4 linked regions of the Homo sapiens genome follow. The protein of the gene in region 1 purifies or fractionates together with the protein of each later gene. This does not show direct contact. Each region holds a gene or a part of one and is shown on either strand. Other genes may lie near its edges.

What was found. Proteins that work in one complex are often made in the same cells at the same time.
Region 2: the proteins of CHAMP1 (region 1) and SCAI purify together in Homo sapiens (affinity purification with mass spectrometry, with the first as the bait; one large-scale study listed by BioGRID). This does not show direct contact.
Region 3: the proteins of CHAMP1 (region 1) and CHAF1A purify together in Homo sapiens (affinity purification with mass spectrometry, with the first as the bait; one large-scale study listed by BioGRID). This does not show direct contact.
Region 4: the proteins of CHAMP1 (region 1) and MGA purify together in Homo sapiens (affinity purification with mass spectrometry, with the first as the bait; one large-scale study listed by BioGRID). This does not show direct contact.

The regions. Positions count from the first base shown.
Region 1 is NC_000013.11:114,321,003-114,324,502, forward strand, and holds part of CHAMP1 (chromosome alignment-maintaining phosphoprotein 1), read left to right. Parts: intron 1-107; 5' UTR 108-230; intron 231-1,060; exon of another isoform or gene 1,061-2,785; 5' UTR 2,786-2,840; coding exon 2,841-3,500. UniProt on the Homo sapiens protein: Required for proper alignment of chromosomes at metaphase and their accurate segregation during mitosis. Involved in the maintenance of spindle microtubules attachment to the kinetochore during sister chromatid biorientation.
Region 2 is NC_000009.12:125,133,529-125,137,028, forward strand, and holds part of SCAI (protein SCAI), read right to left. Parts: intron 1-3,500. UniProt on the Homo sapiens protein: Tumor suppressor which functions to suppress MRTFA-induced SRF transcriptional activity. May function in the RHOA-DIAPH1 signal transduction pathway and regulate cell migration through transcriptional regulation of ITGB1.
Region 3 is NC_000019.10:4,419,640-4,423,139, reverse strand, and holds part of CHAF1A (chromatin assembly factor 1 subunit A), read right to left. Parts: intron 575-3,500; coding exon 345-574; intron 1-344. UniProt on the Homo sapiens protein: Acts as a component of the histone chaperone complex chromatin assembly factor 1 (CAF-1), which assembles histone octamers onto DNA during replication and repair.
Region 4 is NC_000015.10:41,666,905-41,670,404, reverse strand, and holds part of MGA (MAX gene-associated protein), read right to left. Parts: intron 1,578-3,500; 5' UTR 1,511-1,577; coding exon 447-1,510; intron 1-446. UniProt on the Homo sapiens protein: Functions as a dual-specificity transcription factor, regulating the expression of both MAX-network and T-box family target genes. Functions as a repressor or an activator.

The DNA of each region.
Region 1 (3,500 bases):
GTTAGGGCAGGATGGTGAGAGAAATACACAGAATTCCATTACAGGGGGCACACACGATCACAGATATAGTTTTGATTACTTTTCTTTTTTTTTTTTTTTTTTTCCAGGTTCAACTTCTCATCTTTGTTCTTCTTCATATACTATAGGCTGTTTGCTGTGGTTTAGTCAAAAAGCCATGTAGAATGCCTGCCTTTTGAAGACCACTTTTAAGGTGTCTAGTAAGACAGCAGGTAAGTCTAGTAGGGAAAGCATGCTTAGGAGAATATTTTATGAGGAGAAAATTAAAAAAAAATACCTGGAGTTCTTGAGGAAAATCTCTAAAAGTGTACACGCCCTTATGGATATAATGTGTGTTGTGTGCTAGATATACATAATTTGGGATATGAGAAGTGAATTCTGTAGCATTCTTTGTAGATTTAAGTATGAGATTGGCCTGAAGAGCTGGTGGTAGGCAGCGGGAAGAGGAGGGATGGCTGGGAGGAATGGGGAATGGTAGGTGAGTCAGACTCAAACCCAGCACACCTGAGCTCTTAGTCTCTGTTGTAATTACAATATGTAATATAGTGCTCTTTAATATTAGCTTGGCTGTTCATTATTGCCAGTTGGGCTGTTCATTATTGCCTCATGGGATTATTGAGACATATCCTACGTTTTCCCCTAAAGTCTTCTAGTTTTATTTAACAATGGGCTCTGAGACGGATGGTTAACCCATTATTTTTCCATGCATTCAATTACGTTTGTAAGTTAAAGATCATTTTCAGAGATTTTTCATCAGTACGGAATTATTTATTTTTCTTTTGTTACAGTCCTGGCCCCAAAACAGTTTTCTAAAATACAGGATAACTGCTGGGCAACTCAGAAAGAGTAAATAGTTTCCGAAGAAAAGTATTTGTTTCCTCAAGTATCTGTCACCTTTTTAGCTTTAGATCAAAAAATAAAAAAGGCAAATGATATACCTTGGATAAAAGTGTTAGGAAGCAGTATTGCCAGTGAGAACATCTTTAAAAACAAATTATCAAAGTTAGAAATGTTAATTTTTTTTTTTTTTTTTTTTTTTGAGATGGAGTCTTGCTCTGTCACCAGGCTGGAATGCAGCGGCATGATCTCAGCTCTCTGCAACCTCCGACTTCTGGTCCAAGCGATTGGCCTGCCTCAGCCTCCCAAGTAGCTGGGACTACAGGCACACGCCACCACGCCTGGCTAATTTTTGTATTTTTAGTAGAGATGGGGTTTCACCATGTTGGCCATGATGGTCTTGATCTCCCGACCTCGTGATCTGCCTGCCCGGCCTCCCAAAGTGCTGAGATTACAGGCATGAGCCACTGCGCCCAGCCTATACATTTTTTTAAAATAATGGTTTTGTAATTAATAAAGGGAGAGCCTGCATTTCTAATCTGTACTGTTCTTTGAGGAGGAGTAAATATCATTACCGTCAATAAGGGAAGGTGTTCAGTCTTTCTCATTAAAGAGAAGCACATTAACACAATAGTGAAATACTAGCTTTCACCTAGGTTGTAGCAAGGATTAGGAATTTATAGGAAATTGTCTCTCATATATACACGTTGTTATGCAGTAATAGAAGTTTTTGAGAGTTTGGTAAAATGTATCAATTTTACACACAAATGGCCAAGTAATCCATTGCTAGGAATTTTCCCTGCAGAAATACCCTCACATGCACAGATAAGTACAGGGAAAGTCAGTGCTTATTCCATATGTAAAAATGTCTTAGAGATAAATTCTAAATGAGAGTAAGTTGCCAGATAATATGTTTAATATCCCATTTGTGTAAAGCATGTGTGTTGATCAATATATGCTTAGGACATTTCTTCCAGGACACATGAGTACACTGGCTACCCCTAGGGACTGACACTCTGTATCTCGTACTGTGTGAATGTGTTTTTAACTGTGAGCTTCTATTCCCTTTACTACTTAAGAAGACTGGTTTACAATTTTTTTAAATTCATGTTTTCCGGCAACTGTGTTCCAGCTGCTGGGGTGTCCTCTGATTTGCCCTTTGGTTGGTATGCGCCTTCACATCATTCAGGATCTCTGCTGGAATGTCCCATGCATAGAGGTCTTTTCCAACGGCCTCTACATCACTCTCCACCTTATCTTTCCAACTCATGAACGCCATATTGCAAAGCACTGCTTTAAGCCTAAGTGCCTAGAACATTGTAGGACACAAAGTTATTTATTTATTAAATGAATTAATAGAATACTATATTGGGATAGATTAAACATTACAAAATATGTTGACATGAAATCAAGCCAGCATCATGTTTTAAAGTCATCTTTTTATAGCTAGATTTAATTTATTAAGTGCTTTCTGCAAAAGTTTTAGTCTCTTGTTCATCCTTAAATAGCCAAGATTTAATTTTGATATTCACTCATCTTTGTGTGCTGAGGACTTTTGTACTCGGAGTTTGAGAGTCAAAGTATAAAGCACATGCAATAGCTAATTCTAGAGTCAGGCTCACATCACTGATAGTCCTATAGCCTGGACCAGAGAAAGTCAGGTAACTTCTCTGAACCTGTTTCTTCATCTGTAAGTGAAAATAATAGTTGAGTCATATCATTAGGATTAAATGAGATGATGTATGTGAAACTCCTAGCAGAGTGCCTGGGACTGTTCTATATCTCCTTTTTCTTCAAATTCTCCCTAGAGATACTATCAAATAAAGCACGCACTGTTCTAGACTTAAAATTATGCAGTTATAGAATGGACTGACAGCATTTTATTCAGAATTACAGTTCATGAAAATAATTTATTCCTACTTTATTGCAGCAGTATTGAAAGTTTTTAAAGAATATAACCGTGTGTGTTGGTAACAGACAGAAGAATGGAAGCATTCCAGGAACTTCGTAAACCATCAGCACGTTTGGAGTGTGACCATTGCAGTTTCAGAGGCACAGACTATGAAAATGTACAAATCCATATGGGTACCATCCATCCAGAATTTTGTGATGAAATGGATGCTGGTGGGCTAGGCAAAATGATATTTTACCAGAAAAGTGCAAAGTTATTTCACTGCCATAAATGCTTCTTCACCAGCAAGATGTACTCTAATGTATACTATCACATCACATCCAAACATGCATCCCCAGACAAATGGAATGATAAACCAAAAAATCAGTTGAACAAAGAAACAGATCCTGTGAAAAGCCCTCCTCTTCCTGAACACCAGAAAATACCCTGCAATTCAGCAGAACCAAAATCCATACCTGCCCTTTCAATGGAAACACAGAAACTTGGTTCAGTTTTGTCTCCAGAATCGCCAAAACCTACTCCTCTTACTCCCCTGGAGCCTCAGAAACCTGGCTCTGTTGTTTCTCCTGAGCTACAGACACCTCTTCCTTCTCCTGAGCCTTCAAAACCTGCCTCTGTTTCTTCTCCTGAACCTCCAAAATCAGTCCCTGTTTGTGAGTCTCAGAAACTTGCCCCTGTTCCTTCTCCAGAACCACAGAAACCTGCCCCTGTATCTCCTGAGTCAGTAAAGGCT
Region 2 (3,500 bases), on another chromosome or scaffold:
AAATTAGCACATGAAAAGATACTCAACATTATCAGTCATCAGGGAAAGGCAAATGAAAACCACAATGACACGTACCAGTGTACACCCACAGAATGGCAAACAATGGTGGTGGTTTTAAGGGTATACATGTATTTCAAAACTTATCAAATTGTACACTTCAAATATGTACAGCTCACTGTATGCCAACTGTACCTCTACAGACCTGTTCAAAAAACAAAAAAAAAAGAAAGAATCACAAGACCAAGTATTGGTGAGGACATTTGGAAGGGCTAGGATTCAAACTCTAATGCAAGATTTCTCAGCCTCAGAACTAATGACATTTTGAGCTGGGGAACTCTTAGATTAGGATGCTGTCCCATGCATTTTAGGATGTGTAGCAGTATATCTGGCCTCTACTCACTAGGTGCTCCAAGTTGTAACAACCCAAAATGTCTCCAGACATTCTCAAATGTCCCTTAGGAGGCAAAACCCCCTTAGTTGAGAACCACCCCTTAGTCTGACACCACAGCCCAAGCTCTTAAAAACATCTTTCTTTCCACTTCTGGCACTATCTTGGTTCAGGTCCTGAATTTAGTTCACCCAAGACCTCATTATTAGTCAGTCTACATCTAGGCTGTCATCTCTTGTCATTTCAATAGTCACACTACCAACAAATTAACCTTCTAAACCTTCAGGGCTTAGATAAATGACTGCAGAAACTGCCCTCACTACCACTATGCAGAATTCCTATAAACCCTTTGTATGTACTGTGTAAACCTTTGTATATATACAAAGTCATTACACTGTCTCATATTTCAGTGTCTGTCTTCCCATTAATACATGAGATTTTCCCCAACAACGGCCACCTCACTCATATCTATATCCCTAGAACCCAGAACTAGAAAGCATTCAAATGTTTCTTAAACAAATTACATACAACAACAAAATGCCCGGATCTCTTTGCTTTAAATATGTAACAACAACAACAACAACAAAAGCCCCCAAATCATACAGTAAAGCTTTCATCAATGTGAATCCTATCCAAACAAATGGATCTTGTTCCTAATAGGACCAGAAAGGATTCTCCAACTCATAACCCAAACATCATTAACAGACATATTGGACTCTTCAGAATTTTCCAAAAGCACATAGAGACCAAGTTTCCTAATCTTTTTTGTGTGTGTGTGAGATGGAGTTTCGCTCTTGTTGCCCAGGCTAGAGTGCAATGGCACGATCTCGGCTCTCTGCAACCTCCGCCTCCCAGTTTCCAGCGATTCTCCTGCCTCAGCCTCCTGAGTAGCTGGGATTACAGGCATGCGCCACCACGCCAGGCTAATTTTGTATTTTTAGTAGAGACGGGGTTTCTCCATGTTGGTCAGGCTGGTCTTGAACTTCCAGCCTTAGGTGATCCGCCCGCCTCAGCCTCCCAAAATGCTGAGATTACAGGCATGAGCCACCACGCCCGGCCAGTTTCCTAATCTTAAAACTCCTTTCAGTCCATTGCAGTTTTTCAGGGGCATTAAATAGTATCACATTATTTTGGACAACCAAACCCATCCCACACTAACTCCTCTTGCCACCAATTCATTTATTGGTTCACTAGTTTTACTGAGCTCCCCCTTAGTACCTTATAAGGGTGCAAAGATGAACTATGATAAGGAAATAAAAGTTTTAAGGGGAAAAAGATACAAAGAAATAATAATGCATGAGGTTCTTATCTCAAACTGTCTTTGTTTTTCTTAAACTGTCTTACAGTTTGGTCTGCACTAGAAATGTTCTCAAAAGATAACTCAGCCACTAACTAACACCTATCAAAAAGAATTATTTAACATCAATATCCTAAAATAAAAATCATAATTTTAGGCCAGGCACGATGGCTCACGCCTGTAATCCCAGCACTTTGGGAGGCCAAGGCAGGCGGATCAATTGAGGCCAGGAGTTCGAGATCAGCCTAGCCACCATGGGGAAACCCCGCCTCTACTAAAAACAGAAAAAATTAGCTGGGCATGGTGGTGCGCCCCTGTAATCTCAGGTATTCAGGAGGCAGAGGCACAAGAACCACTTGAACCCAGGAGGCAGAGGTTGCTGTGAACCGAGATAGCATGACTGCACTCCGGTCTGGGAAACAGAGTGAGACTCCATCTCAAAACTAAATAAAAATTTTTAAAATCCTAATTCTGGGCTGGGCATGGTGGCTCATGCCTGTAATCCCAGCACTTTGGGAGGCCAAGGCGGACGGATCACCGGAGGTCAGGAATTCAAGACCAGCCTAACGAACATGGAGAAACCCCATCTCTACTAAAAATACAAAATTAGCTGGGTGTGGTGGCGCATGTCTGTAATCCCAGCTACTCAGGAGGCTGAGGCAGGAGGATCACTTGAACCCAGGAGGCAGAGGCTGCAGTGAGCCGAGATCACACCATTGCACTCCAGCCTGGTCAACAAGCAAAACTCCATCTCAAACAAAAAAAAAAAAAACAAAAAAAAAACCATAATTCTGTCAACTGTTTTCTAAAATGTACTACATATGTAATATAACTGTCAACAACTCTACATAGCAGACCCGTTCAATCAGTTACTCAAGGCTACATTCAACAATTAACTTACCTTTTTTTTTTTTTTTGAGACAGGTTTTCACTGTTGCCCAGGCTGGAGTGCAGTGGTGCAATCATGGCTCACTGCAGCCTCCACCTCCCAGTCTCAGCTGATCCTCCCACCTCAGCCTCCCAACTAGCTGGGACTACAGGTGTGTACCACCACACCTGGCTAATTTTCGTATTTTTGGTAGAGATGAGGTTTCACCATGTTGCCCAGACTGGTCTTGAACTCCTGGGCTCACACCATTCATCTGCCTCAATTAATTCATCTTGAAGTGTTTACCAGGAATTTATATCATTTGATATTCAGAATTTCTATAGCCACAGTATAAAACTGATACTAATACCTTTCTTTTTTTTTTTTTTTTTTTTTTGAGATGGAGTCTCGCTTTGTCGCCCAGGCTGGAGTGCAATGGCGTGGTCTCAGCTCACTGCAACCTCTGCCTCCCAGGTTGAAGCGATTCTCCCGCCCCAGCCTCCTGAGTAGCTAGGATTACAGCTGCCTGCCACCACGCCCGGCTAATTTTTGTACTTTTAGTAGAGACGGGGTTTCGCTACATTGGCCAGACTGGTCTCAAACTCCTGACCTCGTGATCTGCCAGCCTGGGCCTCCCAAAGTGCTGGGATTACAGGTGTGAGCCAGCATGCCCGGCAACTAATACCACTTTTTTTTTTTTTTTTTGAGACGAAGTCTTGCTCTGTCACCCAGGCTAGAGTGCAGCGATCTCGGCTCACTGCAACCTTCTCCCAGGTTCAAGTGATTCTCCTGCCTCAGCCTCGCAAGTAACTGGGATTACAGGCATGCGCCATTGTGCCTGACTAATTTTTGTATTTTTTAGAGATGGGGTTTCACCATCTTGGTCAGGCTGGTCTTGAACTCCTGACCTTGTGATCCACCCGCCTCGGCCTCCCAAAGTGCTGGGA
Region 3 (3,500 bases), on another chromosome or scaffold:
ACTAGAATATATATAAAAAACTTTAGCCAGTCAGAGCACAATTAGCACAGACAAAACCCACAATCCTGCAATGCAAATGCCTAAGTTGGTTGGGAACTGGAAGGATGGTCACAGCAGAGACAAGGGGTCCAGGGTGAGTTGGACGTGGGGGAGCACTAAAGAGCAGGGAGCTGCTTTCCACCGCTCCCACGTCAGGGCCCCACGGGCACCTCACGAAGGAGAAATGGGAAGGAACTGAAGGGAGCCGCCATCTGCCTGTGAAGTGGAAAGGCCCCATCAGAGTGGCCAGGAGCGGAATCCAGCAGCAGGGTGGCGGGCCCAGCATGGCCTCCAAGGACACTCACTCCAGGGCTTCCTGTCTCTCCTTGCGCCGCTCCTCCTTGAGCCGCTGCTTCTCCGCCTTCTCCTTCTCATCCTTCTCCCGCTTCTCCCGCCTCTCCTTTTCCTTAAGCTCCTTCTCTTCCTCCTTCTTCTTCTTGGCCTCCTCCTTGGCCCGCTTGGCCTCCTCTTTCAGCTTCTCCTTTTCTTCCCTTTCTGCACGTAACTTGAGCTGCTTGCCCAGACGCTCCTGATCCTACAAGACAGTGTGGCAAGTGACAGGTGGCCCTCCCTCCAACTCCCAGGAGGAAGCTCGGTTCACAGCATGGAGGACAGCACGGCCTGGACGGGATGAACAGAATTGAGGGACCAAGGCTAGGCATGGTGGCTCACGCCTGTAATTCCAGCACTTTGGGAGGCTGAGGTGGGTAGATCACCTGAGGTCAGGAGTTTGAGACCAGCCTGGTCAACAGGGTGAAACCCTGTCTCTACTAAAAATACAAAAATTGGCTGCGCGCGGTGGTTCACGCCTGTAATCCCAGCACTTTGGGAGGCCGAGGCAAGTGGATCACCTGAGGTCAGGAGTTCGAGACCAGCCTGGCCAAGATGGTGAAACCCCATCTCTACTAAAAATATTTTTAAAAAAAACTAGCCAGGCATGGTGGGCGCCTGTAATCCCAGCTACTGGGGAGGCTGAGGCAGAAGAATTGCTTGAAACCAGGAGACGGAGGTTGCAGTGAGCCAACACGGTGCCACTGCACTCCAGCATCAGTGACAGAGTGAGACTCCATTTAATAAAAAAAAAAAAAAAAATTAGCCAGGCGTGGTGGAGGGTACCCGTAGTCCCAGCTACTCAGGAGGCTGGGGCAGGAGAATCACTTGAACCAGGAGACGTAGGGTGCAGTGAGCTGAGGTCACACCACTGCACTCCAGCCTGGGCAACTGAGACTCAGTTAAAAAAATAAATGAATAAATAAGAATTCAGAGACCAGCTCCAGGAGGAGCCTCCAGTCAACAACTTTACACAGAAGTGATTTTATTTTTCTTGAGACAAAGTCTACTCTGTTGCCCATGGTGGAGTGCAGTGGTGCAGTCATAGCTGGCTGCAGCCTCGACCTCCCAGGCTCAAGTGATCCTCCCACCTCAGGCTCCTGAGTAGCAGGGGCTATAAGCACACACCACTATACCCAGCTATTTTTGTAATTTTCCTAGAGATGGGGTTTTGCTGTGTTGCCCAGGCTGGTCTTGAACACGTGGCCTCAAACAATCCTTCTGCCTTAGCCTCCCAAAGTGTTGGAATTATAGGCATGAGCCCCAGCACCCAGCCACAGAAGTGATTTTCATAATCCATTATGCTTCCTTCCATCATGAGAAAAATGTTAAGAATTAGCCCTGTGTCCTGGTACTTGTGGGAAATTCAATATAAGATTCATTTAAAACACAATCCTGCTGGGCTGAGGGGGCTCACACCTATAATCCCAGCACTTTGGGAGGCTGAGGCAGACAAATTGCTTGAGGCCAGAAGTTTGAGACCAGCCTGGCCAAGAAGGTGAAACCCCAAGTCTACCAAAAATACAAAAAAATTAGCTGAATGTGGTGGCGCACACCTATAGTCCCAGCTACTCAGGAGTCTGAGGCACAAGGATCGCTTAAACCCACAAGGCAGTTCAAGATCACGCCACGGCACTGCAGCCTGGGTGACAGAGCAAGACTCTGTCTGAAAAACAAAACAAAAAAACATTATTTATTTATTTGGAGATAGAGTCTCATTCTAGTGCCCAGGCTGGAGGGAGTGCAGCAATGCTATCTTGGCTCACTGCAACCTCCGTCCTGGGCTCAAATCAGTCCTCCTGCCTCAGCCTCCCGAGTAGCTGGGACCACAGGCACCTGTCACCACACCTGGCTAATTTTTGTAGAGATGGAGTCTCACTATGTTGCCCAGACTGATCTTTAACTCCTGCGCTCAAGCAATCTGTCCACCTCAGCCTCCCAAAGTGCTAGGATTACAGGCATGACCCATTGCAACCAGCCCAGGAATTCTTTTTCTTTTTAGTAGAGACACTACGTTGCCCAGGCTTGTCTCAAACTCCTGGGCTCAAGAAATCCTCCCACTTTGGCCTCCCAAAGTGTGGGATTATGGGGGCGAGCCACTACGCCCAGCCTTGTTTCAAATTCTTTAAGGAAGTAACACTTCATCACTACGTTCCTCATTCCAAAGACTTGGCAGTGGCCTGGGACACTCAGTCATTACGTAATCTGAAGTTCAATGTTAAACATGCTCAGCCAGGCGCAGGCTCCCACCTGTAATCCCAGCACTTTGGGAAGCCGAGGCAGGCGGATTACTTGAGGTCAGGAGTTCGAGACCAGCCTGGCCAACATGGTGAAACCCCGTCTCTACTAAAAATACAAAAATTAGCTGGGCATGAAGGCACGTGCCTGTAATCCCAGCTTCTTGGGAGACCGAGGCAGGAGAATCGCTCGAACCTGGGAGGTGGAGGTTGCAGGGAGCCGAGATCACGCCGCTGCACTCCAGCATGGGCAACAGAGCGAGACTGTCTCAAAATAAAAAAAAAAAACGCTCACCTGCCCAGCTCCACAGGTGCCCGCTCCTAACACTGCATGAGGACCACCTCTCATCCAATATGGGCTTCCCACACGTCTGGAGCCTGACAGCTCAGCTTTCAGTTTGGGTTAGGATATCTGCCCTTGTCTCTAAGGAAAAATTCTAAATGTGTTCCAATACATCTCTGGTAGCTTTAACAAAAGCCACAGAGACACAGCCTGGAAGATGTCTGATGTGCATTTCCTGCCAGTGTGCTGTGTGACTGCATCTGATATACGAGACACACGAGGAAGGTGACCGTCTGGACTGAACAAGGAGACTATAAACATAACTGGGTGAAGAGTCTCCCACCCTGTTGCTAAGCAGGAAATAGAAGGCTTCTAGAAACTGCAGGTGAATCAGATTTCTTCAGCCGCCGTTGGATACTTTCTCCGCTCCCCAACCCGGTGTGCGGGACTCGGAGGTTCCAATGAGCTTTAAAAGTGCTCTTGTTCCAAAGAATGAGATAAACTGTAAAAATAAAAATCAGGCTGGGCGTGGTGGCTCACACCTGTAGTCCCAGCACTTTGGGAAGCCAAGGTGGGTGGATCACCTGAAGTCAGGAGTTTGAGACCAGCCT
Region 4 (3,500 bases), on another chromosome or scaffold:
TACTTTTATGAATATTTTGCAGTATTTGTCTTTTTTTGTTTTGCCTATTTCACTTAGCATAGTATTCTCTAGGCTCATCTATGTTGTCATAATTGGTATGATTTTCTTTTTTTTATTGAGATGGAGTCTCAAATGTAGTCAGGTGTTGGTATTCTTGGGTGGTCCTGGAACCAATCCCCCAAGGATATCAAGGAACATTCTAAATACATATGAATAATTCTGATAAGTTATCCAATTTGCCTACAATTCTAGATCCTGAACCCAACTGATTCTCATTACAGAAAAATGATGTCACTTCACAGAATGTAAAAGCAGTTGTAGTATATTTTATAGTGGCTTACATTTATCAACATCTGTAGCATTCCACAGAACCAAGATGTTAAATCCAACACCTGGCCCATCTCAATCTTCCTTTTATTTCTAAGAACAGAAAAACTACTACTTACCATTCAGAAATCTCTTGCTTCAATTGAGGAACTTCACTAAGTGCTGAATCAGTATCCATGAAACCAAGAAAGTCTCGTTTTATATTAAGGGAAGTCTTCTCCAAACCCTTGCCTGATGTTTCATGACCCCTTGACAAAGGATCCAAATCACCTGGTTGTATCTCTGACCCCTGACCTTCTGTAAGACGGACCCGATGACCAGAAGAACTGGAAATATTATTCCCTTCTTGGTCAGAGCTGTTCTTTTGTTTTCCATCTCTCTGGGGCTTATTATTCAGCCCATCATCCCGAAAGCCTTTGGCAAATGGATTGTAATCTATTTTCAGCTGAGTAATCTGAATGTTCTGATAAGCTGTTACTGCAAAGAATTCAGTCTGTGGGAAGGTAAAAGTGTGGACACCAGGGCCATTTAATTGTATCACCTCCACAGCCTTTTCTGCAGGCACCAAATGAAGCCTCGGCAGGTAACGATGCATAGAGTGCAAGATGATATGCCCTTCTTGGTCCAGTGTATTGTTGGTAAGTTTGAGTTTATAGAAAGATACTGGTTGATGCATCCAATAATGACCTGTGGAAGGAGATTCTGGATGAATGAAAACCCTCCCCAAAACATGAGGTTCAGCCTTCCCACTAGGTTCCCACCAACGACCATTCCACTTATAACGATGGTTATCCACAGGAGATATATCCATGACAAGAATATACTTCAAATTTGAATCTAAACCTGTTATCCAATAACGACAGTAAGGAAACATGCGTCTTCCTTGCTTGGTCAGAATCATCTCTGTGCTTCGATGATAGAACTCATTCCACATACTATTGTTATCGAGGGTAACAGTGATTCCACCCACAGTACAATCAGCTGGAAGGCAAATCTTCCCTTTAGATTTTACTGGTGATGACACACTACTAGCCAAAGCACAGGCATCCTGATTAGTAACCAAAATTCCTTGATCAGTTTTGCCATTTCCTGGCTGCTTTAAGATGACAAAGAAGGTAGGTGCTGCTCCTGCCACTGTTCCACCATCTTGATTAGCCAATATAATCTGCTGTTTCTCCTCCATGATTTCAGTAGGAAACTCAGTAGTAAGACAACTGTAATCACCACATAGTCACAATGGCCTTCCCATCCTAAGAAACAAGCAAAAAAAAACCAAAAACAAAAAACACCCTTTAATCAAGTGAGTATTTATTTCTTGAACAAAAATACAAGAACGATTATGTTATCCCCAAAATATTCCTAAATTCTTCTAAGACTTTGCTTCTAAGCTTTTCTTTCAATCACAGTAAGAATATTTACTCTGGAATATCTAATCATTTTTTAAAGTTCATTTTAATCTAATTAGTTAAGGTGCTTATATCCTAATCCTCTAACAATTCACTATAAATACTATAATCTCACACAAAGAAACAAAAGAGTATATTCATTATTAAAAAAGTATACAAAATTAAAAAGTTAAATTTGAAGGTTATGCATTTTTAAAGCATCCTAACACTTTATGAATTTACCAGAAGATTCCTTTATATAGCAAGTTCCCCAGTGATGAGTAAATTAAATAAGTAAAGTTCCATTTTCATCCCAAAGAGCTAATTGTACAGAATTAGTTCTTCATATGGTTCAGAAGACATGGTTCCATAAATAAGTAAAAAGCTATCTAACTTCTTAGTACACACGTTTAAAGAAGCCATGACAAATCACTGGAACTCAATGGACCTTACACTGAAATAAATTCCAGATGACTCTAATATTTAATTTTTTTATTCCTAAATCCTGAGAAAAGTTTTTTGATAAGACACAAAATCTAAAACCAGTAAGGCCAAAAAAAAAAAAAGTGATAAATTTAATACTATATGATGCCAGGTGTGGTGGCTCACACCTGCAATCCCAGCACTTTGAGAGGCTGAGGCCAGTGGATCATTTAAAGCCAGGAATTCGAGACTAGCCTGGCCAACATGGCGAAACCCCATCTCTATTAAAAATTAAAAAATTAGCCTGGTGTGGTGGTGCACGCCTGTAGTCCCAGCTACTCAGGAGGCTGAGGCATGAGAATCACTTGATCCTAGGAGGCAGAAGGTGCACTGAGCCAAGATCACGCCACTGCACTCCAGCCTGGGTGACAGGGAAAGACTCCGTCTCAAAGAAATAAAAATAAAATAAAATTTAATATTCTGTAAATTTTTTAATCTGGCAAAATCATTTAAGCAAAATCAAAAAGCAAACTAACCAGGAAAAGGTATTTGCAACTTATAAAGAACTCCTTTCCCTAATATAAAAAGGGGGCTGGACATGGTGACTCACACCTATAATCCCAGCACTTTGGGAGGCCAAGGCAGGAGGATTGCTTGAAGTCAGGAGTCCCAGACCAGCCTGTCCAACGTAGTGAAAGTCCGTCTCTATTAAAAAATAATAGCGGCGGGGGAGCAGTGGCTCACGCCTGTAATCCAAGCACTCTGGGAGGCCAAGGAGGTCAGATCACTTGAGGTCAGGAGCTCAAGACCAGCCTGGCCAACATGGTGAAACCCTGTCTCTACTAAAAATAAAAAAATTAGCTAGGCATGGTGGTGTGCGCCCATAATCCCAGGTACTCGGGAGGCTAAGACAAGAGAATTGCTTGAACCCAGGAGGTGGAGTTGCAGCGAGCCAAGATGGCACCACTGCACTTCAGCCTGGGTGACAGAGCGAGACTCTGACTCAAAAAAAAAAATAAAAATACATTAACAGTAATAATAATTTTTAAAGGCTTCCTACAAATCAACAAGACCAAATACCTAACAGAAAAATGAGTAAAGGATAATAAACGCAAATGGCTATGAATATGTACATAGTTAAGAGGAAAGCAAATTAAAGTCATCTTGAGATACTGTTTTTTTACTTATCAGACTGGCAAAAATCAAAGCCTGGTAGTGCTGGAAAGGGTTAGGTCAACCAGCATTCTCCCCTAAGCAGTTACTGGGAGTATAAAATAATAGAATCTCTAAGAGAGGGCAACTTGAAAATATCAAAAGTACAAATCCATATATCATCCTATGACAAAGAATTGTTCCCAGGACTTT